Homo sapiens: one gene and its partners. The protein of the gene in region 4 interacts with the protein of the main gene of each other region in a pairwise test. Each region holds a gene or a part of one and is shown on either strand. Other genes may lie near its edges. The genes, in order: LHX8, TCF23, LHX6 and FIGLA.

Region 1 (7,021 bases), on a different chromosome or scaffold from region 4:
AATTAGGAACTTGTGCTCAATGAAACATTCCATTAAGAGAGTAGAAAAAGCCAAGCAACTAAGTAGGAGAAAATATTCTAAGCACATACAATTATCAAAAAGCTTTATATGCAGATTACATGAAGAAATTAAGCAAATCCATTTAAATAAATAATAAAGACAAGCCAGTAGGCCAAAAGACAAAAAGACTTGTACAGCTCTTCACAAAAGAGAATATACAAATACCTGATGAAAAAATGCTCAGTCATCAGGGAAAGGCAAATTAAAATAAGATTGCACTGCACAATCATCAAATTTGCTAATATCAGGAAGTTACACCATACCAAGTGTTGGTGAGGATGTGAAGCACCTTGAACCTTGCTGCTGGTCAAGGTGTAAACTGGTTCAACCACTGTGAAAAACTATCTGTCAGAATGACTGAAGTTGAGCATATGTGTAGCCCATGACCTTATGTCCCACTCCCAGGTACATATCTAGTAGAAATGTGAATTAATGTGCACAAAAAGCATGTACAATAAAGTCCATAGCAGCATATTCATAAAAGCACAAACTGGAAAAAACACAAATATCTATTAACCAGGAAATGGATAAATTGTGGTATATTCCTACAGTGGATTTCTATATAACAATGAAAACAAATAACAGATTCTCACAATAATATAGGTGAATCTCACAATGTAATTGAAAGAAGTGAGACACAAAATACATTCTGTGTGGTTCAAAAAGGGCAAAACTAAAGGGTGGTTTTAGAAATCAGTGCCATGTTACTTTGGGAGAAAAGGATAATAATTGGAAGGAGACATAAGAGAGGCTTCTGAAATGCTAATTATATCTGCTACTTTGGGCAATATCTATATGGATACATTCATTTTATTAATTCATCAAGCTGAATAGTTATTACGTATGCACTCTTCTAAATGTATGATTTTCTTCTATAAAAAACAACTCTTTAACAAAACTTATTAAACTCCCATCTAAAGATCTGAGTGAACACTTGCTCTGATCACAGGAAATAAAGTATTTAAATATTTACCGGTAAAAACAAACAAAAAATTTCTAAGTAAAGATCAAGCATTGAGTCATTATTAATATTTGCATCTTAGCTGCAAAGTGAGTATTAAACTTCTTCCTTAAAATGTAATCACAGAAATAAAAATGTTTGGATAATTTTGCTCTCTACTGCACCCCCCACAATATTTTTCAGCTACTACTGAGGTAATATTTCAAAATGTGAATTGTATCAATAATCTAATATTAGAAGTTACCAGTTGCTGATTGCCTGGGAGACAGCTGTTAAATGTTGGGATACCTACCATCCATATAACTATGCAGCGCAGTTAACATCGTTCCATCTTGGGGCACGTAGGCAGAATAAGCCATTTCTTCTAACATGGGTGGAGACAGCCTGGAGGGTGGGACTGCTGTGACTGGGGTGGAGGATGAGTGATTAGGACTGACGTGTTTCTTGTGGCGTGCTCTACAATTCTGAAACCACACCTGAGCAGGGAGAAAAGCAACAGAAGTAGGTAGGTTACACACCAGCTTCTGAGCACATTATCAACTCAGTTAAAAAATGAATGCAACCTCAATCACACTACCACACAAGCACCGCATAAATGTAACTCAGCTTTTATAAAAGTTCTATAGACAGAAAAGAAACATTTTAGTCCAAATAACAGTGGTCATTTTTCTTGCTCAGTTGATAGCTCTCTGGTGATTTACCTAAAAGCCAATTCTATTTAAGTAGGAAAGGGGACCAATTGCTTAAGGGATTTTGGTTTGTTGAATTTGAGTTGGTCAAACGTTAAGGTTACCCCTTGAATGCAATTATTAAACTCTATTGGATTTGACTGGGTGCTGTGGCTCATGTCTGTAATTCCAGCACTTTGGGAGGCTGAGGCAGGCAGATCACCTGAGGTGAGGGGTTCAATACCAGCCTGGCCAACATGGTAAAACCCCGTCTCTACTAAAAATACAAAAACTAGCTGGCCGTGGTGGTTGGTACCTATAATCCTAGCTACTCGGATGGCTGAGGCAGGAGAATCACTTGAGCCCAGGAGGCAGAGGTTGCAGTGAGCTCAGATTGCACCACTGCACTCCAGCCTGGGCGACATAGCAAGACTCTGTCTCAAAAACAAAACAAAACAAAACAAAACAACAACAACAACAACAACAACAAAGCCCAAACAAAAGTACCCCAAAAACTCCATTAGATTTTTTAAAAATAAAAATAAAAGCCAATTCTATACTAAAACAGCATCTTCCCCAGAAAAGGTGGGGAAGGGCCCTCAAGAATTCCAGAGAAATCTCCTTGGTTTTACTACTGGTATTTAGGACAAAAGGAAAAGCAGAAAAAGCTCTTTTAATCAGAACTTAAAAAAAAAAAAAAAAAGACTACTAAATGTATTCTTAGGCACCTGCTGGACTTATTTCAAATCCTTGTTCAAATGACTAAAATCCCTACTGAGAACTTAAAGCTTTCTACAAACCTCTTGATTCAGTTATTCCAGTCAGATTTTAACCTGCTGAGTTCAATTTCTCTTGGTGAATACATAGGCTATTCCCTAAGAAGCATGTTAAGGTCAGGTCTTTAATAAGAAAAAAACTCATAATATTTAAGTAGAATTAAATACAAACACATCCACTGATGAGAGTTCACAAAATGTAAAGTGCTAACCACCCTGCTGTCCACTCTACTGCAGAAATAAAAGAAGCAAATTCAGGGCAAGTGGAGCTTTACATCCAGGTCAGGGCAAGTAAGTCTAGGCTGCCCAGAATGCTTCCAGTAGCTAATATGCCTGTGTTTGAATTCCCTGACAGGTGATAAAACTTGACCATAGAGAGTGTTTCTTCATGGGCCGGGCGCAGTGGCTCACTCCTGTAATCCCAGCACTTTGGGAGGCCAAGGCGGGCGAATCACAAGGTCAGGAGATCGAGACCATCCTGGCTAAAACAGTGAAACTCCATCTCTACTAAAAATACAAAAAATTAGCCAGGCATGGTGGCGGGTGCCTGTAGTCCCAGCTACTTGGGAGGCTGAGGCAGGAGAATGGAGTGAACCTGGGAGGTGGAGCTTGCAGTGAGCCAAGATCATGCCACTGCACTCCAGGCTGGGCGACAGAGCGAGACTCCGTCTCAAAAAAAAAAAAAAAAAAAAAAGAGAGTGTTTCTTCATTAAAATACTGTATCACTTTTTTTCCATCACTCCAAACAATTCTGTCATGAGAGGAAAGAGAGGCGAAGGGATAAAAACTTAGCATGAGAACATTTTGGGATCAGGGATATGAGGCCAGGAAAACATCAGGGGCATAAGTCTGTTCAAGGCTGGTGGTAGGGCCTTGATGGCACAAGGCAATCAGGGCTGATTAATGTGAAATAAAAGGAAGCTGCAAAGAATTTATAAGAAAAAGCTGGCCTTACTTCAGAACTACACCCTGCCCCTGGCATTCAAAAATAGAAGGTTGGCAAAGTATACTCTCAAGAGTGATTAAAACTAAAAGAATAAAAAATTAATAATCTAGTGGGGTATATAGCCTTGAGCAGGAGGCTGAAAAGTAGCAGCTAAGGAATGTTTCTGGGACAAGACTTAGGTATCCACCAGTAAGACAAGTGGGAAGTCACAGCCTCCTCCACATCCCTGTTCTCTGGAGTGTTAGTGAGACTCAGAGATACCTATAGACCACACCCCAAACTCCACAGTTCTGCCCACAGGCTCTGGAACAATAGATGTCACTACTAACACTAGTCTCACCCAAATAGGATGACATTACTCAAACATTCTCCAATGTGTAAGGGGGAACCACTGCCACCGGCCTTTTTCCCTTATGGGACCCAGAAGACACATACGCCAGAGGACTACATATAACCTAAAACATGTTGCACTATGATTCCCAGAGTTTCTTCAAAGTATCTTTTTGTCTCCAATAAGTTATATATTGAATGGAACCTATGCAGTTGTAAAACAAAAGAAACACCATCTTTTGATTGAAAAAAAAAAACACTCAAACTTTGTAAATAAACATGAAGAAGGTATAATATAAACAGCAGAATAACTATCTTGTTAAGCAGCTTCTTGGAAAGATCATCCACAGGTAATCAAGCAGAAGGAGGTTTGCAAAAACAAAGTATCATGTAACTAACTGGTAGAGCAAAATATAGTTTAAGATTCCAGACATCAGGAAATTCCTTCTGGCATGAATGCTACCCAGCTTCAGAATCAAGTATAAGTCCTTTTGACTCTCCTCACTGACAAAATTTCCTCCTTCTTGTTTGCAAACCTCCAACAAGAGTTAACATTTTCTGAGTAACTACTTTAAATTTTTTGACTTCTAAATCATAAACTAAGCTAAAATCAGGCCATGTAGATATAATGGAAAAGCAAAATACTAATGCAGAGAATGAAACCTTTAGAAAGCCCAGACAAAAAGCCAAATATAATAATTTTGTATATGACAAAGATGGGATTTTATTTTATTGGGAAAGCATGTTTCACTGATTTAGGGAAAACTGATAGTTTATCATTTGAAAGAGAGAAAAAAATAGATAAAACCCTATCTCCCATGAACCAAGCCAGATAAATTAAAGTTTAGGCGTAAATAATTGAAACAATAAAAGTTTAAGAAAACAAAAGGCAACATTGAAATACTCTCTAGATAGGGAAGCATAAGAAAGGCCAAAACTAGACCCGGCGTGGTGGCTCACACCTGTAGTCCCAGCACTTTGGGAGGCCGAGGTGGCAGATCACAAGTTCAGGAGTTCAAGACCAGCCTGGCCAACATGGTGAAACCCCATCTCTACTAAAAATACAAAAATTAGCCAGTCATGATGGCAGGTGCCTGTAGTCCCAGCTGCTCGAGAGGCTGAGGAGGAGAATCACTCGAGCCCAGGAGGCAGAGGTTGCAGTGAGCTGAGACTGCACCATTGCACTCTAGCCTGGGCAACAGAGCAAGACTCCATCTCAAAAAACAAAACAAAACAAAACAAAAAGGCCAGGCGTGATGGCTCACTCCTGTAATCCCAGCACTTTGGGAGGCCGAGGTGGGTGGATCACGAGGTCAGGAGTCGAGACCAGCCTGGCCAATATGGTGAAACCCCGTCTCTACCAAAAAATACAAAAATTAGCTGCGTGTGGTATCACGCACCTGTAGTCCCAGCTACTCAGAAGGCTGATGCAGGAGAATCGCTTGAGTCCGGAAGGCGGAGGTTGAAGTGAGCTGAGATCGTGCCACTGCACTCCAGCCTGGGTGACAGAGTGAGACTCCATCTCAAAAAAAGAAAAACAAAACAAAAAAAAAGGCCAAAACTATCAAAAGACTGGGAGATTTAAACACATAGAAATATAAATGTTCTGTGTGGAAAAAATAAAAAGGAAATTGATGAACCGTGAAAGGTTAACATGACAGATAGGATTAATAAATATCAGTAAGATATAGAGAAAATAACCCAACAGAAGAGTGAGCTAAAAACATACGGTCTTAAAAATGAAAAAATAAACTAATTTGTTCAAGCTCATTGATAATATAAGAAACAGAAATAAAATCAATGAGATTTTCTTTTCTAACTATTAAATTGTAAAGGATGTAAAAGAGTAACAGTATTCAGGATTCTTCTGAGTTGGGGAAAAGGAACTCTTGTACGTAGCTCCTGGCAGAATAAAGTTGTATGAACTTTCTCAAAGGCAAAGAGATTTCATGTTTGTATAAAGGCCCTATGCATGTTTTATCTTTGGACTCAACAATCTCCCTTCCAGAAATTTATCCTGAGGAAACTATTGAACAAGCACGCAAGGTAGATATACAATGTTGCTCATGGCAGCATTTTATAATAGTGAAAAATTGGAAGCTAAATAAATTGTGCTATGCTCAATATATGTGGCAATAAATATGATGTTAATATGGAAGGGTATTCCTAGTACACTGATTGGAAGAAATAGCAATAGTTTACTCTGTCTCTGCACAACATAAAAATCATAATTCACTTATCTGAAAGAGTATGTGAACAGTGATTGTATCTGGATGCAGTGTGTGGGGAAAAAAATCACTCATCTTTATTCTTTGACTTCAGTATAAGGACAGTCTGCTTTATTACAAATGTCTTACTAAGCATATTTGTAACTAGGAAACGTGAAACTCTCCACGTATCACACCAGTTTCCTCCTAATCTTTGGGTGACCTAGTTTGCATATTAGAAGAAGTCTAGTAATAAAAACTCTTTTTTCTTACCTTTCTAAAATATTATGCCCAATGCTAGGAAGGAGGCTGAGGGAAAGTATGATTACTATTTGAGATCACAGTAATTCTTATAAAATACTCTGAAGGGCTACAACATATAGTGAGCCTATGTATAGATACAAATAATAAACACATAAGCATGCTAGTACTCTTTCCTTTGGAATCATATCAAAAATATTTAATGTTCAACCTTAACATATTGAAAGCCAACATTCAAAATATATTCTCCAAATGGTAGGGCTTAGGACAAAGTTAACTTGCTCATAGTACTAGTAACCTAAATGCCTGGAAATTACATGACAGATGTCTGCCTGTGTTCCTTAGTCCTTCAAATATGAAAAGCTCTAAGAAAACTCTCCTTCTTCTTTGCTTCCAACTTCAAAATGATATAAGTCATGCATCTGACTTACCTGAAGCTATCATTGTTATGAATATACAGAGTCTTAAATTAGAAGGAACTTTTAGCCCGTGGAGTCGGAACTACCTGCCAAAGAAAACTGTTCTCCCAGGCAGAGGAAACTCACTACCTTCCTTGGTAGTCCGTGCCATTTGTGTAGCCTTTCAATAATGAGAAAATTCATTATGAGTGAACACCAGTGCCTTTTTCTACATTCCGTTGCAGGGAAGCCTTTCACAAATATTTAAAGACACCTACTCTGGATATTACTCTTTCTCTTACCATCTCCTGGCCTTATCTCCAGATAAATATCCCTGCTGCCTTTAATATTATGGCATGATCTAAATCTTTCACAACCCTGGTAGCCTTTGAGGTAGTATGTTTTTCAGATTGC
Region 2 (7,934 bases), about 44 Mb from region 4:
TGCTTGAAATCCTTTTCATTTATGTATGGTCAGTAGTGATTTCCCCTCTTTCATTTCTTATTTTAATAATTTAAGTCCCCTCTCCTTTATTCCTTGTCAATCTAGCTAAAGTTTTATCAATTCTGTTGATCTTTCCAAAGAACCAATTTGTGGTTTTGCTAATTTTCTCTATTGTTTTTCTATTTTCTTTCTTTCTTTCTTTCTTTTTTTTGAGATGAAGTCTCGCTCTTGTCCCCCAGGCTGGAGTGCAATTGTGCGATCTCAGCTCACTGCAACCTCCGCCTTCCAGGTTCAAGCAATTCTCCTGCTTCAGCCTCCTGAGTAGCTGGGATTACAGGCGCCTGCCACCACGCCTGGCTAATTTTTGTATTATTAGTAGAGACGGGGGTTCACCATGTTGACCAGGCTGGTCTCGAACTCCTGACCTCAGGTGATCCACCCGCCTCGGCCTCCCAAAGTGCTGGGATTACAGGCTTGAGCCACTGTGCCCGGCCTGTTTTTCTATTTTCTATTTCATTTATTTCTGCTCTAATCATCATTATTTCCTTCCTTTTGCTTACTTTGAGTTTAGTTTGCTCTTCTGTTTCTAGTTTCCTAAAGAGGTTAGTTACTGATTTGAAATTTTTTCTCGTTTTCAAATTTTTTTAACTTTTTTTTTTTTTTTTTTTTCTGAGACAGAGATTTGCTCTTGTTGTCCAGGCTGGAGTGCAACAGTGCTATTTCCACTCACTGCAACCTCCGCCTCCCGGGTTCAAGCGATTCTCCTGCCTCAGCCTCCCGAGTAGCTGAGATTACAGGCGCCTGCCACCATGCCCGGCTAATTTTTTTGTATTTTTAGTAGAGATGGGGTTTTGCCATGTTGGGCAGGCTGGTCTCAAACTCCTGACCTCAGGTGATCTGCCCGCCTCAGCCTCCCAAAGCTCTGGGATTATAGGCGTGAGCCACTGCGCCTGGCCATTTTTTTTTTAAATATAAACATTTACAGCTATAAATTTTCCTTCTTTTTCACTGCTTTAGCTGGATCTCATAATTTTGGTATGTTGTGTTTTTGTTTACATTCGTCTCAAAGTATTTTCTAATTTTCCTTGCAATATCTTCTTTAACTTACTGATTATTTAAGGATGTGTTGTTTAATTTCTCTATGTTTGTGAATTTTCAAAAGTTAGCTCTGTTATTGATTTCTAATTTAATTATATTGTGGTTAGAGAATATTATTTGTATGCCTTCAGTCCTTTTAAATCTACTGAGGCTTGTTTTATTTATTTTATTTTATTTTGAGGTGGAGTTTCGCTCTTATTGCCCAGGCTGGAGTGCAATGGAGCGATCTCGGCTCACTGCAACCTCCACCTCCCAGGTACAAGCGATTCTCCTGCCTCAGCCTCCCAAGTAGCTGGGATTAAAGGCATGTGCCACCACGCCCGGCTAATTTTGTATTTTTACTAGAGATGGGGTTTCTACATGTTGGTCAGGCTGGTCTTGAACTCCCAACCTCAGGTGATCCGCATGCCTCGGCCTCCCAAAGTGCTGGGATTACAGGCGTGAGCCACTGCGCATGTTGAGGCTTGTTTTATGATCCATTCTGGAGACTCTAACATATGATCCATTCTGGAGAATCTTCCATGTGCAATTTAGAAGAATCTGTAGCATTATGTTGTTGAGTGTTATTTGATGTCTGTTAGGTTTAGTAGGTTTATAGTGTTTCCCAAGTCGTCTATATCCTTATTGATTTTCTGCCTAATTGCTTGAAACTTGTAATTTTGAGGATTGCTTGAGTCAGATTCTATCTCTGTTGCCCAGGGTGGAGTGCAGTGGCGCAATCATAGCTCACTGTAACCTGGAACTCCTGGGCTCAAGTGATCTTCCCCTCTGCCCCAACAGCCTCCTGAGAAGCTAGGATTACAGGCATGCACCACTGCACCTGGCTAATACAATTATCATTTGTGTAAATTTAAAATTTATTCATACAACAATGCACAGGCTTCAGTAACACATACTACATTAGTTATCTATAGCTGCTTCCAAATTACCCCCAAACTTAAGCAGCAATAAACATTTATTATCTTCTATGGCTTCTATAAGTCAGGAATTCTACGGGCAAGAGCAATTTAGCTGGGTGATCTTGGCTCAGGGTCTCTCATGGGTTGCACTCAAACCGACAGCCAGGGCTGCAGTCATCTGGAGGTCCAACTGGAACTGGAGGATCCATTTCTGAGGTGGCTCACTCCCACGGTTGGCAAGTCGTGGTGGCTGTCAGTGAGAGGCCTCAGTTCCTCACAACATGGGCCTCTCCACAGGGCTGCTTGGATATCCTCAAGATAGCAGCTGGCTTCCCCCAGAGTGAGCGATCCAAGAGGGAGCAAGGGGGTAACTGCACTGTTTTTATTTTTTATTTTTTTTTGAGACAGTCTCACTTTGTCGCCCAGGCAGGAGTGCAGTGGCACGATCTCGGCCTACTGCAACCTCTACCTCCTGGGTTCAAGCGACTCCTGCCTCAACCTCCCGAGTATCTGGGACTATAGGCATGCATCACCATACCTGGATAATTTTTGGGGTTTTTTTTGTTGTTGTTTGTTTTTTAAGATGGAGTTTCGCTCTTCTGCCCAGTCTGGAGTGAAGTGGCGTGATCTCAGCTCATTGCAACCTCCGCCCCCGGGTTCAAGCAATTCTTCTGCCTCAGCCTCCCATGTAACTGGGATTATAGGCACCTGCCACCACACCTGGCTAATTTTTGTATTTTTAGTTGAGACAGGGTTTCGCCATGTTGGCCAGGCTAGTTTCGAACTCCTGACCTCAGGTGATCCGCCCACCTCGGCCTCCCAAAGAGCTGGGATTACAGGCGTGAGCCACCGCGCCCGGCCTGATGCACATCTTTTCCATCTCCTTTCTATATGTTCACATAAGCACATAAAACTTTACATTTCTATTTTTTATTTTTTGGTGTATTTTTTTACGTGGCTGGGGTCTTACTATATATATTGATCTACAACTAGCTTTTTTCACAACTGTGTGTTTTGAAGAGTTTTTCATGTCATTTAACAAAGGGCTGTCATTATTTTTATTACTGTACATTATTTCATAGTATGGAGATGCCAAAATTTATTTAACGACTTCCCTACTGATGGACATGCAGGTTGTTTCTACTAACCTACCTACCTTTCTTTCTTTCTTTCTTTGCTTCCTTCCTTCCTTCCTTCCTTCCTTCTTTTTTCAAGACCGTGTCTTGCTCTGTCGCCCAGGCTGGAGTGCAGTGGCACGATCTTGGCTCACTACAAGCTCCACCTCCCAGGTTCACGCCATTGTCCTGCCTCAGCCCCCTGAGTAGCTGGGACCACAGGCACCCACCACCACGCCCGGCTAATTTTTTTGTATTTTTAGTAGAGATGGGGTTTCACCCATCTTAGCCAGGATGGTCTCAGTCTCCTGACCTCGTGATCTGCCCATCTCAGCCTCCCAAAGTGCTGGGATTACAGGTGTGAGCCACTGCACCCGGCCCTTCCTTCCTTCCTTTCCTTTCCTTTTTTTTTTTTTTTTTTTTTTTTTTTTGAGATGGAGTCTCGCTCTGTCGCCCAGGCTGGAGCCCAGGCAATCTCGGCTCACTGCAACCTCTGCCTCCCGGGTTCAAGCAATTCTCCTGCCTCAGCCTCCCGCGTAGCTGGGACTACAGGCACGTGGCACCACACCCAGCTAAATTTTTGTATTTTTAGTAGAGACGGGGTTTCACCAAGTTGGCCAGGATGGTCTCCGTCTCTTGACCTCATGATCTACCTGCCTCTGCCTCCCAAAGTGCTGGGATTACAGGCGTGAGCCACCGCGCCCGGCCTCTTTTTCCCTTTCTCTGTGGTGGGCTGCATATCTTTCTCACTGTACATCCACCTTTTTACTTTCTCCTTACTTATTTGATCTCCCCTGAGGTTCGAGAATGGGGGACAAGGGACATCAGGCTGGATTCTGCTACAGGCAGAGGTCCCTGGAAGACAGCAGGGGCTGCTGTGGCAGATTCGCGATTCCTTCAGCCCGCCTTCTCCTAACTAGCTCTTGGAGGATGTGATGCAACTCAGGAACACCATGGTCCTTGCCTTCAGAGACCTCATGTCTAGCATGGGGACAGACGCGTGAGTAACCCATGGGAGGCAGGCTAGCATCAGGTGAGGGGTAGCCTTCAAAGTCCAACTGACGGCTTGGATTTTCATCCCACCCCACCACTTAACGGATGTTTGACATTGGGCAAGTTATTTCACCTCCCAGTATACCAGTTCCCACACATCTAAACTGAGTCTCTTTTTTTCTTAAAAGGTTGCTCTGAGAAATAAATAAGATGCTTAGCACAGTGCCTGGCACACAGTAATCTATGAATATCGAACTTCTGGGAAAGTAGCCAGGCTGTGATTGTACCAATCAAACAGGGACCCATGGGCTCTGGGCCTGCGGGATTTGAAGTCTTCACGAATGAAAGGCGGAGACCTGAAGGATGGGCAGTACCTCCTGGCAGAGCTGGAGGAAGGTATTCTGGGGCGTGGAAAGGTAAATTTAAACACAGAGTGGAAATCGGAGGCATATTTGGGGCATGGCAAATCGCGCTCTGTGGCTGGAAGGTCACGTTCATTGGCAAGGGGAGGAAAGGCCTTTCAGGGATGTATGCAGGCAGCCTTCTGGCACAGACGAAGGAGGTTCAAGTCCTCTCCATGGACGTGAGCTCCAAAGCGGAAGTCACAGGTCCACCATAGGACCACTGTTGAGGTTAGGCATGGCCGGAAAGGAGCTCCCTTCCCCACTATCCTCCTGCCTTCTTCAGCATGGGCCTCCTCCCAAGGCTTGGCCACTCCCAGCATCCAGCACCCCCACCTCTCAGCTGGGTTAGGAGGCAGGCGGAGGCTTTTCGCGGGGGCTGTGCCTGGTGGGCGGTTTTCCCAGAGCAGGGAGCAAACAGGACTGAGTTGGCGCCAGCTTCCTCGGATGTAGATATTGCTGGCTGGATGACCAGCCACAGCCAGCTAGCTTGAGTCCAAGGCCTCCTCAGGCACTGTGTTTCTGCTCTGTGGGCTGCAGCCCCAGTGGGGTGGCATGTCACAGAGGAAGGCCAGAGGGCCACCAGCCATGCCAGGGGTGGGGCATAGCCAGACTCAGGCCAAAGCACGGTTGCTGCCAGGCGCTGACAGGAAGAGGAGCCGCCTCAGCAGGACAAGGCAGGACCCGTGGGAAGAAAGAAGCTGGAGCAACCAGAGATGGAGCAGAGCTACCCCTGGCCCTCGAGGGACCAGGGCTGGGGGCCTGGCTCTTGGCAGGGTAAGGAAATCCTGCACCTGCAGAGGGGTCCAGGGGAGGAAGGGGTTGGAAGGTGGGGAGATGTCACCTCTGATGGTACAGCCTCACTCAGTATTACCATTCCTGCCCAAGAGAGGGGACACTGGCCCCTTAGACTCCAAGGCATCATGCTTTGGGTAGTTGGGATAGATCAGAGCTGGTCTTAACCAGAGTGCAGCTCAGAGAGCTGCACTAACTCACTTCTCTTGAGGAAACTGAGGCCGGGAAGAGGGATGTGAATTTCCCAAGGTCACTGAGCAGCAGCCAGTGGTAGGACTGGGACTTCAGCCTGTGTGCTTTGACCCCTGGTTCTGTGTCTTTCCTCTTTCCCACAGCAGCCTCGTCGTCTCAGGACCTGGCTAGGTCAAGGGTCCGCCCTCCCAAACAGGGTGTAGCTCTGAACTCCCCCTGGCCCCAGCACACCCTGATAAGCAGGATTCAGATTGGGCATGGGACAGGACAAAGGCTCTGAGGAGGCATGAGTGGAGTAGTAGAGAGAACACAGGACTCTGGGTTCTGAGCCAAGCTCTGCCATCCTGCAGCCATCTGACCCCTGGCCAGGCCTTCCCCCAACTTCCTCAGCTGTGAAACGCGGCAGGGCTGCAGATGACGTAGGTGGGCAGAGGCCCTCTGGTGCCTACTGCTAGACACCCTTCTACTCTGGTGGGAGACCTTGTGCTCAAACGCTCTCAGAAGTCAGGGCAGTTGGGAGTCCAGGTCACACACACTCACTGGGGCCCTCTGTGCAGAGCGAGGCCAGTCCTGAGAATGCCGCGCGGGAGCGGAGCCGGGTCAGGACGCTGCGCCAGGCCTTCTTGGCCTTGCAGGCTGCTCTGCCTGCCGTGCCGCCCGACACCAAGCTCTCCAAGTTGGACGTGCTGGTGCTCGCCGCCAGCTACATAGCCCACCTCACCCGCACACTCGGCCACGAGTTGCCTGGCCCTGCCTGGCCGCCCTTCCTGCGTGGACTCCGCTACTTGCACCCTCTCAAGGTAAGTCACAAGCCCTGGGACTTGAGAGGCGGATCTTAATGCCCAGGGCCTTGGAGAAAGGGATTGGAATGAGGGGGGACATTGGACTTGGGCCCCCTGCCCTGTGCAGAACTGACGTCGGAGCCAATTTCTCCTGCTGTCTCAGAGGGAGAGGAGCCAAGGCTGACCCTTGGGGCTGCGCTGACCCTGGGTTTCTCATGGGAGTGTGGCTGGAAATGGCTTCATGGGAATGCACCTCCTTGAAGAGGAGGGAAAGACTCTGGGGTTCTTAGAGTCACAGGGAAAAATGTAGCAGGTTCCAAGTCTGGGGCCTGGGAAAGGAAATTATACCAAGGAGAGTCCTAGATCCCCATGCAGCTTCAGCCCATTGTGCCTGCCTTGGTGCTTTCTAGGCTTCTGTTGCAAGAGAGGTCTGTCCTCCAGGAGAACAACGGTCTGAGGGACCGTCATTCTAGAAGCAACCAAGCTGGGGGAGTTAGCAGGCAGCAGTACAGGGAAGGCGCGCACCACTTGCCAGACTGCAATCTAGCTTTTCTCAACCTCAGTTTTATTACACGTAAAATAGAAGCTAACATGAGCCTTACTTCTCTTCCAGAGTACAAAATGGAAAGTCTAATGAACATTAATCATCTTTGCAATAACAGCTAACAGTTGAGTGCTAAAGATAGGCCAGGAGCTGGGTTAAGTACGTTAGTGTATTTTTGTCTTTTAATCCATGCAAAAACCAAATGAGGATTACTTTACAGATGAGGAAACTGAAGCTTAGGGAGGTTATGAGGCTGAAAGCGGTTTGAACTCAGGGGTGTCTGACTTCAGACCCTAAGCTCATAGCCACTAAACAGTCTCCAGGGACAGCGCCATAAGGAGCTGGTTGAAGAGTGCACTGTGTTAAAAAGGAAGGGTCATCTTTGCCCTCTGAGGATAACATTGCAGTGGTATCAACTTTTTTATTTTATTATTTATTTATATATGTACTATTATTTTTTTGAGACAGAGTTTCACTCTGTCGCCCAGGCTGGAGTGCAGTGGCGCAATCTTGGCTCACTGCAACCTCCACCTCCCGGTTCAAGTGATTCTCCTCCCTCAGCCTCCCGAGTAGGTGGGATTATAGGCGTGCACCACCATGCCCGGCTAATTTTTCTATTTTTAGTAGAGATAGGGTTTCACCACTTTGGCCAGGTTGGTCTCAAACTCCCGACCTCAGATGATCCACCCACTACGGCCTCCCAAAGTGCTGGGATTACAGGTGTGAGCCACCACACCCAACTATTTATTTATTTACTTATTGTTGAGACAGGGTCTCACTGTCGCCCATGCTGGAGTGCAGTAGCGCAATCATAGCTTACTGTACCCTCAAACTCCTGGGCTCAAGGAATCCTCCCACCTCAGCTTCCCCAGTAGCTGGGACTACAGCCTTATGCCACCACACCTGGCTTTTTTTTTTCTTTTTTTTTTTGTAGAGACGGGGTCTCACTTTGTTCCACAGGCTTGTCTCAAACTCTAAGCTCAAGTGATCCTCTCACCTCTCAACTTTATTTTTATGATACTTTTCACCACCTCTTTCCCCTAAATGTCATAGTTCTGAAATGTCTTAAAACTTGGTTTTTTTCTTCAATGCAAATGTAGCTAAAATGTATAAAT
Region 3 (7,021 bases), on a different chromosome or scaffold from region 4:
GGAAGAGAAGAGCCAGAAACGAAACATTTACAAACCAGTGTGGTCAGCGCTGAGAGAGCGGTGCAGGGTGCCGTGGGACTCTGGGGGAGGGTAGGTCAGTGCAAAGGCCTGGGGGTGGGAAAGTGCTTCAGAGGAGGCCATAAAGACCTGGGAGTGACCTTCCATTGTGGCTGACTGGGACACATGCCTGGATGGTGGGGCGGCATATCTTGAAGGTTAGGGAGGAGATGGGCCTGAAGAGGATGTGGTCGCTTGGGTTTTGCAAACCCCAAGGGTTTTGGACCAGATCCTGAGGGTAGAGTGGAGCCACCATAGGATTGTAAGCAAGGCAGAAACAGGATTTCATGTGCATGCTGGAAACTTTGCTTTGACTGCTCTGTGGAGGATGGGTTGGCAGGGGCGAGACTGGAAACAGGGAGACCGGGGAGGAGGTTGACAGTGAGGGTTGCATGATGGGAGCCTGGCCTAGGAGGGCAACAGTGGAGATGGTGAGAAGGAGATGGATCCCAGAGATACTTGGGAAACAGAACCAACAGCATCGATGATTGGCTGGATGAGGGGTTGAGGAGAGAGAGGAGTGCATGATTATGATTTTCAAGCTTCAGGGGCTGGGTAAGTGGTGGCACCATTCTCTGAAATAGAGGGTGTACCAGAGGAAACAGGCTGCTAGGGTTGGGACAGAGTCACAGGTGAGTCATCCACTTTAAAGAACACACTTTCCCTGGTGCCCGGGATCAGGCCCTGGGCTGACTTCTGGGATGGAGTAAACCAGACTCCGCTGCCTCCTGGAGGGGCTTCCAGTCTGGTGTTGGAGGCAGCTGCACCCAAATTGCCAGACTACAAAACCAGAAGGGAGAAGGAGAAGTCGTAGAATCAAGGAAGGCTTGAGGGGCAAGAAGACATTCGATCTGGGCTTTTTATTTTTATTTTTGTCTTTTTAACATTTGGTATTATTAATAGAATGTCACAGGCTCCAGAGGGACTTGCTGGGTACTTAGCCAACTGCAAAGCACTAAACAAACAGTAGTAGTCATTGCTGTTGTCATCTAGTTCAGTGCAGGACAAGGAAAACGAGAACTCAGAGTTAAACAGTTTGCCTAGTGTCACAAAGCCAGTAAGTGCTTATCTGTCTGTTCATCTAAGAAACTGCACTTCTGTACAGCTGGCGCTATAGCTTATATTCATCTCTGGAGCAGGATCGCTAGGGTTCCTATCATTGCAAGCGGTGTGACCTCCTGCAAGTTACTTTACCTCTCTAGTCCCCATTTTCCTCACCTGCAAAATGAGGATTAATTGGGATAATCAATGTAAAACAATTAGAATCTTGCTGGGCAAGTGGTAAGTGCTCAACAACTTGCTTATTATTACTATTATTGTGTTTTTTCTAACTTGTGATGTATTTTTAACAAACAAATTAATATGCAAATATAAGTGACCATCGTAGAAAATTTGGAAAATTCAGAAAAACACCAAGAAGAAAATAAAAATCACCCACCAGTTCATCTCCTAGGTGGGACTAGGTGTAGAGTGTTGTTGCGTCCAAGCTAAGGCTAATGCCTGAGTTGAAGACTTAGAGGCCAGGAGCCTGGGGGCTGGCGGGCCATTGGGTGGTGGAAGGAGGAAGGTTGGCCTGTCTGAGTCTCGACACCCCGTGCCTGTCCTCTCGACCTGCAGCCGATTCGGGACCAAGTGTGCCCGGTGCGGCCGACAGATCTACGCCAGCGACTGGGTGCGGAGAGCTCGCGGCAACGCCTACCACCTGGCCTGCTTCGCCTGCTTCTCGTGCAAGCGCCAGCTGTCCACTGGTGAGGAGTTCGGCCTGGTCGAGGAGAAGGTGCTCTGCCGCATCCACTACGACACCATGATTGAGAACCTCAAGAGGGCCGCCGAGAACGGTACCCAACCTGCTCCGCCTGGCACCTCTGCCCCCAGCCCTTTCCCACCCCACCCCACCCCAGCACCCCAGGAACCACCCACACTCCTCTACCGATTGGGCCCTCCCGGTATAGTCCCGCAGGCAGCGTAGGGGTGGGGCGGCGAACAGATCTTGCACTTCCGGGTCGATCTTTTGCTTAGGAGTCAGAAGTCACTGCCCTCCTTTGTAACTATGTTTCCTTATCAGTAAAATGGCGTTAACAACAGAACACCTTCCCAAAGATAGATGAGCTAGCTGATGTGTTGTAAAGCCAGGAGGCACTCAGTGAACCCTAGAGATGGTTCTCATAATCGGGCAGCCTACTCCACCTTTGGACAGCTCTCATTGGCCTGGGGGCTCATCCCCTCCGGTTGCCTGGGACCAGGCTTGGGCCAGTCCTGGAGAGATGACTTGGCTCCCATTCTCCCATTTCCTATCCTAGCAGCTCCAAGCCAGAGGTTTGAGGAAGGGTTTTCATCCTGGACCAGGGTCTCTAACTATAAGGGGAAAGGACCAGGTTTCTGAGTCTGGAGACCAGGCTCTCCCATACTGTGTTGACATATGAGGTTTCCTTTTCTCTCTGGGCCTCAGTCCCTACATCTGTGCAAGACAGATACTGGACTAGAATGATCCCTAAATCTCTTCTGGCTCTGACATTGTGATTCCCCAGATTGCCCAGGAACAAGATCCAGGTCTTCCACGGATCCTGGGGACAGGGTCACAGATGGGATGGAGCTGGGAAAGGGCAGTGCTTGGCTGTGGGCAGAGGCAGGGACTCTTTCTCTAATTTCCCTGTTAGGGTCTGTGAAAGCTGCTAACTTCTCTGTAACAGGGATTATTTTATGTAATCCTTACAACAGCCCTAGGAAGTAGGTGGCACGGCCCCATTTTACAGAAGAAGAAACAGGATTTGCCAAAAATTACATACTAGTAGATTTGCCTAGCTCCAAAGCCCAGCCTCTTAACTACCATACCATACCATATCATACCATACCACACCACCTTGGCCCTAAGCTCTAGGGCACCTTAATCAGATCTCATAAAGCCAAGGAGGCTTCTGGGATGTAGCTGCCTCTGTTTTAGTTTCCCATCTAAAAAACCAACACACCAATCCTTGCCCTGCCTGCTTTCCTAGGGGACATTAATACCACAGAGTGTCTGCCCAACCCCCAGTTTTTCTGGGGAGGAGTATGAACCACCCTGCCTCAACTTCTAGGTCCCAGCCTGGAGACTAGTCAGGGACCGCAAGAGTGTTCCTGGCCATGGGCATACCAGGGCCATCATTTTCTCCTGCCAGGATCAGGACTAAGTGGGTCTAAGGGGGCATCTAGTGAACTTGGGTTTCACTTGCTGCCTGCTTATCTGCAGTGATGGGCAATGAAATTATCTGCAGTGGTCAGCAAGTCAGCAGTAGAGCTGGGATGGAAACCCAGGAGTCAGAGCTTTCCCACACTGTGGTCCATCAGCGACCACAGGCTCCTTCCACACATGGTCCAACCAGGACCACCTGTAGTTACAACCTTGCCAATTACATCCTAGCTCTCACAGCCACACCTGTCCACAGACTTAACATGCTGAGGAACTTGAAAGCTGGGGCCTCCGATCTCTCTTACTGATCAGCCCTCAGTATTGGCTACTGTTTCACTTTTTAAACATAACACACACACAGATACACACACGTTCATTGTAGAAAAATTAGAAAAGACGGTAAGCAAAAAGAAGAAAATAACGATTGCTCCAAATGCTGCCTTCTTCATATTTTAATGTGTATCTTCTCAGATTTTTTTCCATGTATGTTACAATGTTTGCTTTTTTCCTTCAACATAATTTTTTCCTAATTAAAAAGTTACAATAAATTGTGAACAATGGTTATTTCTGAGTGCTGGAATTACTGGTGATTTTTATTTTCTTCTTTGTGCTTATGGAAATTTTCTGAGATTTTGAGGATATTCAGAACAATGAAGTATTAAAAATAAAATGGGAATATGGTTAGTGTTTTAGTATGACTGTAAAAGTAATATGAGTGGAAAGAGAATATCTAACATATACGCCGGTTAACAAAATTAAACCTTACAGAAGTAAGGCAACATATGATTGTTTTTAAATACCTCAAAAGTTACAGGAATACTGAAAGTAAAAAGTTTCCATAATCACATTCCTGGGAAGTAAACCACTGCCAACACCTTGTTGTATATTCTTACAACCTTTTTTCCTTCCGCTTATTTTTATAAAATTAGGAGCATAGTTCCGTTACTTGCTTGCTTCCTATCTCCTCTAGCCTTTGGTGTCCCCCAGTTTCGCCAGCAGGGAGCCCAGTTTGGGACATTAGGGTCAGCTAGCTTTCGGATTCTAGTTGAAAGGGCCAGGGCAGGGGCTTTCCTTCTCTCTGAGCCTCAGTTTCCTCCCATGTATAATGAGGTAACGCCACCTCTCCTTAGGGCTGTAAGACGTGGTCCAGTCGTGTAAGAAGTGTCCAGTACTAAGCGGACGCTCAGAAACCCCTTCCCCAAAGACTGAGCTCAGGGACTAGGACCCTGGGATCCCTGCTCCCAGCCAACTCCCGCTCCTGACCCTTCCAGGGACAAGCTCCCCCCACCCCCGTCCTTTCCAGGCTGCCACTAGAAGAGATGGGGACGCGTGGTCAGCTGCTTCTATCGCCCCCAGGGAACGGCCTCACGTTGGAGGGGGCAGTGCCCTCGGAACAGGACAGTCAACCCAAGCCGGCCAAGCGCGCGCGGACGTCCTTCACCGCGGAACAGCTGCAGGTACCGCTGCAAGCAGTGGGCGGCGGGGGCGGGGGCCGGGCCGAAAGTGGGCGGGGCCGACAATGTCTCCTGGCTCCGCCCCTCGGGCCGGACCCGGGTGGCGGGGCGGGGCCGCAGCTGCCTGGGGCGTGGCCTGTGGACTGGCGCCGCTGATTGGGCCGGGGTCTCGGAGTCTCTGCGTGCGAGCGCCTCACCGCCCTCCCCGCCCCGCAGGTTATGCAGGCGCAGTTCGCGCAGGACAACAACCCCGACGCTCAGACGCTGCAGAAGCTGGCGGACATGACGGGCCTCAGCCGGAGAGTCATCCAGGTGGGACGGGGGTGGGCGGGGCCTGGGGACCGCGGGCACGCCCCGGAGCTCGTAGCTGGGCTCGGCGCGGAGGGTGGTGCGTGCACGTGGCCATCCTTCTCCAGGAGGCGACGAGGCAGTCCCGCCTGGGGTCTCCCGGCGGCGCGTCCGACTCTTTTCCTCGAGGCTGAGGCTGCCGAGGCTGTCGTTCCAGGTGTGGTTTCAAAACTGCCGGGCGCGTCATAAAAAGCACACGCCGCAACACCCAGTGCCGCCCTCGGGGGCGCCCCCGTCCCGCCTTCCCTCCGCCCTGTCCGACGACATCCACTACACCCCGTTCAGCAGCCCCGAGCGGGCGCGCATGGTCACCCTGCACGGCTACATTGAGAGTAAGTAACCGCAGCGCCGGGAGCCGCTGGGCCTGCGGGGAGGGGGCGCGGAGGAGCGCACGTGGGCGGCTGAGGCCGAGGCGTGGGGTGGAGGGCCTTGGGGAGCCTCGTGGGTGAAGAAGCGGGACCCGAAGTCATTTGGATCTAGGAGTTGGGGGAAGAAGGGTCAAATCTTCGGCTCTGCCTCAGTGGAGCGGGATCCTTCATAGAGGCAAGCGATTCAGCAGCCATTCAAAAAATGCCTTCAAAGCACCCACAATGTGCCAGTGCCCGGAGACTGGGGAGAGAACAGGCTGGACAAGGTACCTACTCTGTGGAGCCTGCGTTCTGGTGGGCATGGAAAAATAGGCAGATGAGTGTGTCGTTTTAAGTGGGATGATTCCTGTAGGAAAGGTGCTGGGTAGGAGTGACTGGAGATGCTGCGGGGTGGAAGGGAAGGGGCTGGGCTGCCTTTCAGCAAGCAGAGACTGAAAGGATGGATAGGATTTAGTGAGGTACCTGGAGTGGGGGAACGGAATGCACGCAGGCCCTGGCCCAGAAAGCATCGTGGCATGGGTGTGTTCTGGGGAGCAGAAGGCCAGTGTGATGGGAGTGTCCAGGGCTGTGAGGCCTTAGGCAAGTCACCTAACCTCCTTGAGCCCTGGTTTCCTCATCTGTAACCTGGGATGTCAATAATGCCAGCCTCACAGGGTTGTGAGACACCATTCATGCATTCAGTAGCTATATCTTGAGTGCCTTCTGTGTTCTTTGCACTGGGATACGACAGTGAACACAGTAGACCAAAGCTTCTGTGCTCCTGGGGTTTGCACTCCAGCATGGGAGATGGTGGAGATGATAAAGTAACAGGGAGGGAGCAGGCATGTCCGTGGCAGGGAGTACTGTGGCGGAGATGCAGGGGCAAGCGGGTCATGGTGAAGTGACTTGTGAGCGGGAACCTGGAGGAGTGAGGGAGGAGCCCCGGGGATTTCTGGAGGATGAGTGTTCAGTGAATCTGCTGCTGAGCAGGTGCCTATCACAGATTGTCTTTCCCTTTGAAGTTGTTCCCATCAATTGTTTCCTCTAAGCTGGGCATGACCAAAAAAATGTAAATGACTGCGATGCACACAGACACAATTCCTCCCTTCTCTGGCTCCATGTAAGAGGGAAAAAGAAGGGAAATCAGACAGAGAACTGCTGCTTACTGACCATATGCCATATATTCTACTGACTGTGTCTCTAAACATCAGAGGCCACCATCTCCTTGAATAGATGAGGAAACCAAGGGCCCACTGTAAGTTAGTGGGAGCCGGTATGCCTTAATGATCGAGTGTGGGCTTTGGTTTCAGATTGCCAGGCTTCACATCCCAGCCCTGCCATTTACTAGCTGTGTGACAGTGGGTGAGTTTCTTAGCTTTCTTGCATACTCATTCCCTCATCTGTAAAAATGAGGACAACAGTATCTCAAAGCAGTGTTCTGAGCATCAAACGAGGTAACTGAAAATCCTCAACATTCAGCAAGTGCCGCATAAGTATTGGCTGCTCTTGTGATGGTGGGAGTGGTTTTGGTTGGCAGAACTAGGAGTGCAGAGCCCTGTCTTCGCACCAGGCTGCCAGTTGGAAACCATGTCTCTTTATATAGTTCCATTTCTGAACTATCTGCTCAATAGGAGCGACATTTTCCCCCT
Region 4 (7,797 bases):
GCTTTTTGAAACAGAGCAACAATAAGAAATTGGTAAAAGGTCCTTTAGCCTTATCCTGCTTTTTGCACCATTGACTCAGAGACCTAGTGTCTGTATCAATCAGCAAACTAGACAGGGATCCCCTTTCTTCAAGGCATTGTGTTTTGAGATAGCTGTGTGTCCCCATCCTTACTCCAAGGGTGGACTCCATTCGGCTGGCATTGTACTGGACTACAAGGTATTTAGGACTCAGGAAACAAAAAAGCAGTAAAGAGAGGATGTTATCAGTTGCATCCCAAGAGGTCTGGTCCCACAAAGGAAGAGCAATAAGCAGGAATAGCAAACACAAGGAGAGCAATGCATTCTGGGACCTAAAGATGTTCACATACTTCAGGCAGCCTGGAACAGGAAACTCCCTACTAGACCCATAGAGCAGTATAGGATGAATGCAACTGAGCCAGTACTGTGTATATCAACCATAGTATATCACCAGCATCTAAGAGGACACTTATCCTTCAATTTTCCATGGCAGAGAGATCTTCCTACTTTCTATGTAAACTTAGGTAAGCTTTTTCATTCATCTATTTATTTATTCACAAATATATATTATAGGGTCAAGCAGCTATGGCAAAACGTGAAAGATTTTACCTGAATAAGCAGGTTCTTATTTTACCCATGTCAAAGTAGCTTTTTTACTTCATTGCAAGCATCATTCATTCATTTGCCTTCTCACTCATTCAACAAATGTTTATTGCATGTCTACTGTGTGCCAAGCCAGCACTCCGTAGGTGCTGGAGATGCTGTGGCCAGTGATCCTCCTTCAAGGAGCCAAAATAAGAGAAATAAATGATCTCGCAGAGGCTTATGGGCACTACTGGAGCACAGAAGAGGGGCACTAGGACAGAGACTCCTGTTGTCAACCAAATGCGTTCTCCCCATTGAACAGAATTGTAGCCAGGCACATGGCTCCCCAGTCAGACTACATTCCCCCACCCTTTCTTGCATCCGTGTGTAGCCATGTGTGAATTCCTGCCAATGGCATGTGAGTTGAATCCTATGTGCCACCTCTGGTCAGGCCTTAAGATCTCTTCCGTGCCCTTCTCCTGGAACCCAGATACGGTGGCTACCGAGCCTCAGCCATGCCAATGATGACAATGCTGTAGGGGAGTTGACCCTAAGGGATGGAAGAACAATAATTTGGAAGGAACCTAAGTCCCCAAGTGACCTTGAGGAGCAGAGCTGACCTAAACCTTTCACACTGTTAGAGGATAGTGAAACTTTTTGTTCATTAGGCCATTGTATTATTGGGTGTATGGCAAGGTATCAGCCCTAAGTCACCATCAGGTGTAACACTTTAGCTTAAATCAGTTCACATGATTGCTTTCCCTGAGAACAATGACATAACGTATGAATCTAACAGACCAGAGGCCAGAAAGTTAAGAGTTGGAGTTTATGGAAGAACACAGGTATGAAGGAATCAAATCTGGTGTGCTCACAATGGGTTCCTAATGTACACCACCTTGTTCACTGCAAGGTTTGGCAATAAAATAGAATAATATCAATGATGTCCTTTATGATGCTTTCAAGGAAAGTTAAGTAAATGGGTAAGCTATCTCCATTTTAAGCTTTTTCCCACACTTTTGGCCCTTGTTGCTTTCCATCTGCCTGCCAGCAGACAACACCAAATGAACTTAGCGCAAACAAAGTATTTTCCTACTTAAAAATATATTTTAAATTACAGAAGTGGCCCGTGTTTATTGTGAAATAAGCTATATAGAGGATGTGATGTGCAGTCACACTTCCCCATTCCCAGGCCATGCTCAAGGAACCTCAGTCAAACATTTGGTGTGTCCCCTTCTTTCCTTTGACCTTTCCTGGGAGGCAATGTCAGAGTGGGAGCTGAAGAAGGGTGGGGCCTAAGAGGTGGCTGATGTGGTTAGAAAATTGGTTAGGTACAGGGATTGAGCAAATAAGTAATTACACTGAGGATAATGTGAGTCAAGCTTCTCATTGTTGGAGAAGGGAGTTACAAAAGCAGATATGGGGTGAGGAGTTACAAAAAAGGAAAGCAGAGAAACTAGAGGGAACCTGAGGTGTTGGGTTGGAGTTGGAGGTATTAGTGTGAACTCATGGTTTTAAATATATATGTACTTAGATACACAGATATAGTTATTATATGCATTATATTATATTAGAGGATATTATATGCATTATTATAATATAATACATGCATGTGTACTTACCTACATATGTGTCATATCTGCAAAAAGGGCTTAGAAGCAATGACATCCCAAAAGGAATGAGCAAGCAAGCACACAGATCTTGGTTTCTAAATCCTACCTTCCACTAAAAGAAGAATAGACTGATCCCTGGGCTGGGGCTGGGAAAATTCAAGAAGAGCCTTCCTGGGACAAGTGAGAAAGTGCACAAAGAATGAGGGAGTCATATGAAAAGGACAGAGGAGCCAGCTTAGAGGGCCTCCCATAAGCCAAATCTGAGACAATTTGAGCATTAACATAATGATGTAAATAAATTATATCCTGTGACTAAAATAGAAATTCATGAGCCCATGCTGACATAAATACAAAATGAATAAATAAATGGGAAGAAGGGAAAGCTCTTTTTCACAGTAGAATGCCAATCATTTGCCTCTAATTGTAGTGCTGGTTGATTCAGGTAGGAGTCAACAATGGATGAGAAGGAGTATCTCCTCACAAAATTTTTTTTTATTTTTATTTTTTGAGACGGAGTCTTGCTCTGTTGCCCAGGCTGGAGTGCAGTGGCACAGATCTAGGCTCACTGCAAGCTCCGCCTTCCGGGTTCACACCATTCTCCTGCCTCAGCCTCCTGAGTAGCTGGGACTACAGGCACCCGCCACCGCGCCCGTCTAATTTTTTAATATTTTTTAATAGAGACAGGGTTTCACCATGTTAGCCAGGATGGTCTCAATCTCCTGACCTCGTGATCCGCCCGCCTCAGCCTCCCAAAGTGCTGGGATTACAGGCATGAGCCACCGTGCCTGGCCCACAAAATATTTATCAATTTATGGTGAAAAAACCTGACACCACCACCTTGACCAGGCGATTAAGGTTAACATCACCAGTGGTGGGGCAGATCAACCTCATGTACTTCCTGATGTGATGCACTGAGAAGAGCCCAGCATCATTTATATGGAGCCCCTCCATGAAGGCATGGCTGGGGTCTGGACATGAGCAAATAGTGGACAACCCCAGGTCGAGGGACATACTACAGAATGAAAGGCCCCTACTCTTTTAAACTGTCAAGGGCATGAAGACAGGACAAGATGGAGGAAATGGTCCAGAATGAAGGAGAGTAGAAATATGACAACAGAATAAAACTTGTACTCCTGGATTGGATTCCAACCAGAAGAGAAAAAGACATTGTTGAGACAGCTGGTGGTACTTTGATGGGGTCCATGGATTGTATGGTAGCACAGTACCAATGCTTACTTCCTAGTTTGAGTGGTTGTGTTGCGGTTATGTGGAAGAGAGGCCTTGTTTAGGGGGAATACCCACTGGAGTATTTAGAGGTGATATGACAGCATGTCTGCAACTTAAAAACTTTAAAAAAAGAATAGATCAATGGATGCAGCTAGACGTCATTATTGTAAGGGAACTAACACAGAAACAGAAAACCAAACATTGCCTGTTCTCACTTTATAAGTGTGAGCTAAACATTGAATACACAGGGACACAAAGATGGAAACAATAGACACTGGGGTCTGCTTGAGGGGGAAGTAAGAGGGGGGCGTGGGTTGGAAGGATACCTATTGGGTACTAGGCTCACTACTTACGCCACGGGATCATTCGTACACCAAACCTCAGCAACACACAATTTACCCACTTAACAAACCTGCACATATACCCCTGAACCTGAAACAAAAGCGTAGAAAAAATATTTTCTCAGACCAAAGAAAAAAAAATGTATTTCTATGCTTGGAAGGAATGATTTTACAGAGGGCTTCCAGAAACATGTCTGATTTTCAGGTGCAAGATCAGAATGTTCCAGTTATATTGATAACCTCCAGAGAAACAAACTCTCATGAGTAATCTACTCAAAACAGAAGATGTAGTTAATTATTTCTAGAGTACTAAATTGTACTCTACTATTAAACAAGTTTGGGATCGCTATTTTCCAGCACATTTTCTGAAGTAACAACTGTGTTTGGCTGTGTTGACAATAAAGGTCTGTGTGGAAAAGGGGGAAAATGAATAAAGCGATGTATCCCCCCACTCGCGAAAAAAGAAAATAGTTCAAATAGAATGGAAAAAGAATAATGAAAATGAGAATATTCACAGCGAGAAAGAGGGCAACGGAGCAAACGTGAAAACTTAGCAAGTAGAGAGCGTGGCGAAGGGGGTACAGGAGCTCTTAGAAACTCTTCTTGCCATTTTCCCCGCAACTTTTATTTCAAAACGAATTCTTAAAAAAGTTTTGTGGATATCCATCACATTTTTCTGTATACACATAGCCAGAAGCTCAGGCCCCAAGACAGATTGATTAAATGGGAATTTGGGGGACTGGAACCGTGGCATGTGGATTGAGAAAAACACCACTACCACGCTCCCGGCGGTTCCAGGTGTGCAGCCGGGGCTGCGCTCCAGCGCTCCCGAGTCACACCTGTGCGGCTTATTCAACGCGATGCCTGGACGCAGCCTCCAGAGAGGAGGCCGGGATTGGAATACGCAGCCGGGGAATGGTTGCAGGTGGTCCAGCTCCCGCCCCCGCCCCGCCCCCGCCCGGGCCTCGTGCGGCCCCGGGTGCGCAGGTGAAAGCCCGGCCTCAGCGGCCTCGGCCCTGCCATGGACCCCGCGCCCGGCGTCCTAGATCCCCGCGCCGCGCCGCCCGCGCTCCTGGGCACCCCGCAAGCCGAGGTGCTGGAGGACGTGTTGCGGGAGCAGTTCGGGCCGCTGCCCCAGCTGGCCGCTGTCTGCCGGCTCAAGCGGCTGCCCTCGGGCGGCTACTCGTCCACTGAAAACCTCCAGTTGGTGCTGGAGCGGCGGCGTGTGGCCAACGCCAAGGAGCGTGAGCGGGTGAGGGATCCCTAGGGTCGACGTCCGTTCCCCCCTTCCCTGCTCTACCACCAAACACCTGGTCAACACCCGGGGGTCCGCTCACCGCCCACCCCCGCTCGAGGCGACTTCGAGCTCCCGAGGCCTCCCACGCCCCCAGCTTGTCAGGAGAATGGCAGTGGCCTCCTTCTTCTGCACCTCCGTGCAGCTGCTCGTTGGCGGCCGCTGCGGTGGCCGCCTCGCCCGCTAACCCTCCAGGATTTGTGCAGGACCCGGGTCTGGGAGGGGACAGAGGAGGGGCCCTGACAACTTCAAAAATGTCTCCCTGGGCAGGTGCTTTAAAAGCTTCGCGCCCAGGGGGTGCGCCTTCATCTCACACCGTAGGCGCTGGTGGGTGCTTGGGACGCGCAGGGATCCCCTTCGCTCCTTTTTCTTGCTCTCTGCATCTCGGCCTCGAAGCACACACGAGGGTGAGGAGAAAGGGGGGCCTGACGGAAGTGACTTTTCTTTTTTAAAGTAACGAAACACGACGTCCCAGTGTGCACCCAAGACTCCCACTCAACTCTGTCAAGATAAAGTGAGTGTTTCCCAGTCGAGCCGCAGCAACTCGCAAACGGGAAGGGTCCTGTGGGCCGTGGTTGGAGCGGCACCTGCTGGTAGATTTTACTATCTAACGAAACTCAGCCCCAAACTTGGGAGACATGGTCTCCTTCCTAGCGTTTGCAGTCTACGGGTTTGGTTGCAGCAGAGGCGAATCCAGGAGAGAGAAGGGTGAGGGGTAGAAGAGGGAGCAGAGCGCACGTTCAGGACTGGGACTGGGGAGAGAAGTACCGCCCGGGGCTGTTCCTAGGCCTTTCAGAAATGTCCCAGTGAATCAAGTAGGAGCTTTGCAGGGAGAGGGCAAGCGCAGAAAGGACGACAGGAGAGTAGGAGACTTCTTTAAGTCTCCTCTTTTACCAGTACTAGACTCTTGATGGACAGAACCCTGTGATCTGATTCGGTGGCCCTACAAAGAGATTATGATCTAATAGTTTAAGTGGTCCTTCCCACCAGGAAGGAATTGTCTTCTCCAGAGAATCAGTCCTGGTTTTATCCACTAAAACACGAATAAGCTTTATTATTCTTTATAATGATAAGGTTAACACACTTGGAAAAGACAGAAATGAGTGAAGAAGTTAAGAGACACAACACAGATATAACTACTGTGAACATTTTTGTGTATATCCACCCAGTCTTTTTCTAGTTTTGTGTATTCATATATATATATATATAATTTTTACAAAATATTCAGTACATATTTGTGTAATTTTTTCCACTTAACATTATCAAAAGCATTTTCTTATATTCTTAAGTATTCTTTCAAAGAATAGTTTTTGACTGCATAGTCTGTCCAAAAATGGACCATAATGTATTCAGTCTCTTATTGTTAGGCATGTTTGCTGTTTGTAGCTTTTTACCGGTACCTATCGGTGTAACTCTATGTGCGTGTCTGATAATTTCCTTAGAATAAAATGCTACAAGTGAAATTACTGAGACTTAAGGCATATACAATGGAATGGCTTTTGATACAAGTTACCCAATTGCTTTCTAGATAGGTTTACTAATTTTTATCCCTTCTTACAGGTCTAGGACTGTTCTCTTTTTCAAGCTATCCCTTATCCTGGGTATGATAAAACAAAAATGTTACCACCTTGATACATAAAAAATGGTATCTAATTTCTGTTTTAGTTTGTAGTTCTTTGATTATTAAATTCTTTTTATACACTGAGTGGTTGTTGTATTCTCCTGTGAATTGGCCAACTATGTCCCTTGTCTGGTTTGCTCCAGGGTAGGATATACTCAATATATATTGGCTTTGTGGCATAGTGGGAGCCAGTTCTCCCAAGGCCTGTATCTCCCAGGGGGATGAACATCAGAATTATAGGCCTTCAGAGACAGGGATTAGACTCTGGAGAAGAGAGAAAAATAAAATATGAGGAGCCTTTGAAGTCTCACCAACTCTCTGGATTCTCACCCTTGCCTCTATATCATTAACTCAGTGGGGAAAGAGTTTGAAGAGCTGATGGCTCAGTGCTTGAGTTGACAAGTATTTGTACATTTGATTCATCACCAGCAATACCACTTCTTGAGGACTTTCTATGTGCCAGGTTTGGGTGAGGTATCTTATTTGTACATTATATCACTTAATCACACCCCCCAAAAAGCTTTAAGATATTTTCCATTTTGCAGATGAACAAACAGGCTTAGTGATGTGAAGTATTCCACACACTCTTGTAAATGATAGACCTGGATTTTAAACCTGGGTGTAGTTAATTCATATTTTAGCCACTCCTCTACTGCCTCCGCATTATGATACAGCGGGTATGCTCTCAAAAGAAGAGGAGTGAGCTCAGCATGAACATGAACACACCTTGCAGCCCATCTGCCCATAGTACCAAGTTTATGCCATTCCCTCTTCCTTTACTATGAACTGCACTGCTGGTGGAGCACTGACTCTTTGGGGCATATGCCTGTTTAGATTTGCCACTCAGACAAGGAGGCAGTGGAAACAACCCCCTTCTGTAGCTTGGGGAGATGTCTATACAAATTGGCTTCTCTGTGTGTTACTGTGCCTTTTTGTTTTCTAGATAAAAAATCTCAACCGTGGTTTTGCCAGATTGAAGGCACTTGTGCCATTTCTTCCCCAAAGCAGGAAGCCCAGCAAAGTTGATATCCTTAAAGGTGCGACTGAATATATACAGGTTCTCAGTGATCTTTTGGAAGGAGCCAAAGACTCAAAGGTAAA

The links.
Region 1: the proteins of FIGLA (region 4) and LHX8 interact in binary tests that used the Homo sapiens proteins (3 or more experiments, as listed by UniProt).
Region 2: the proteins of FIGLA (region 4) and TCF23 interact in binary tests that used the Homo sapiens proteins (3 or more experiments, as listed by UniProt).
Region 3: the proteins of FIGLA (region 4) and LHX6 interact in binary tests that used the Homo sapiens proteins (3 or more experiments, as listed by UniProt).

The regions. Positions count from the first base shown.
Region 1 is NC_000001.11:75,151,369-75,158,389, reverse strand, and holds part of LHX8 (LIM/homeobox protein Lhx8), read right to left. Parts: intron 1,498-7,021; coding exon 1,314-1,497; intron 1-1,313. UniProt on the Homo sapiens protein: Transcription factor involved in differentiation of certain neurons and mesenchymal cells.
Region 2 is NC_000002.12:27,144,073-27,152,006, forward strand, and holds the start of TCF23 (transcription factor 23), read left to right. Parts: upstream 1-4,931; 5' UTR 4,932-5,061; coding exon 5,062-5,283; intron 5,284-6,050; coding exon 6,051-6,293; intron 6,294-7,934. UniProt on the Homo sapiens protein: Inhibits E-box-mediated binding and transactivation of bHLH factors. Inhibitory effect is similar to that of ID proteins. Inhibits the formation of TCF3 and MYOD1 homodimers and heterodimers. Lacks DNA binding activity.
Region 3 is NC_000009.12:122,211,942-122,218,962, reverse strand, and holds part of LHX6 (LIM/homeobox protein Lhx6), read left to right. Parts: intron 1-1,674; coding exon 1,675-1,895; intron 1,896-4,526; coding exon of another isoform or gene 4,527-4,537; exon of another isoform or gene 4,538-4,579; coding exon 4,580-4,680; intron 4,681-4,893; coding exon 4,894-4,989; intron 4,990-5,182; coding exon 5,183-5,357; intron 5,358-5,566; coding exon of another isoform or gene 5,567-5,727; exon of another isoform or gene 5,728-7,021. UniProt on the Homo sapiens protein: Probable transcription factor required for the expression of a subset of genes involved in interneurons migration and development.
Region 4 is NC_000002.12:70,787,644-70,795,440, reverse strand, and holds the start of FIGLA (factor in the germline alpha), read left to right. Parts: upstream 1-4,797; 5' UTR 4,798-4,802; coding exon 4,803-5,033; intron 5,034-7,639; coding exon 7,640-7,792; intron 7,793-7,797. UniProt on the Homo sapiens protein: Germline specific transcription factor implicated in postnatal oocyte-specific gene expression.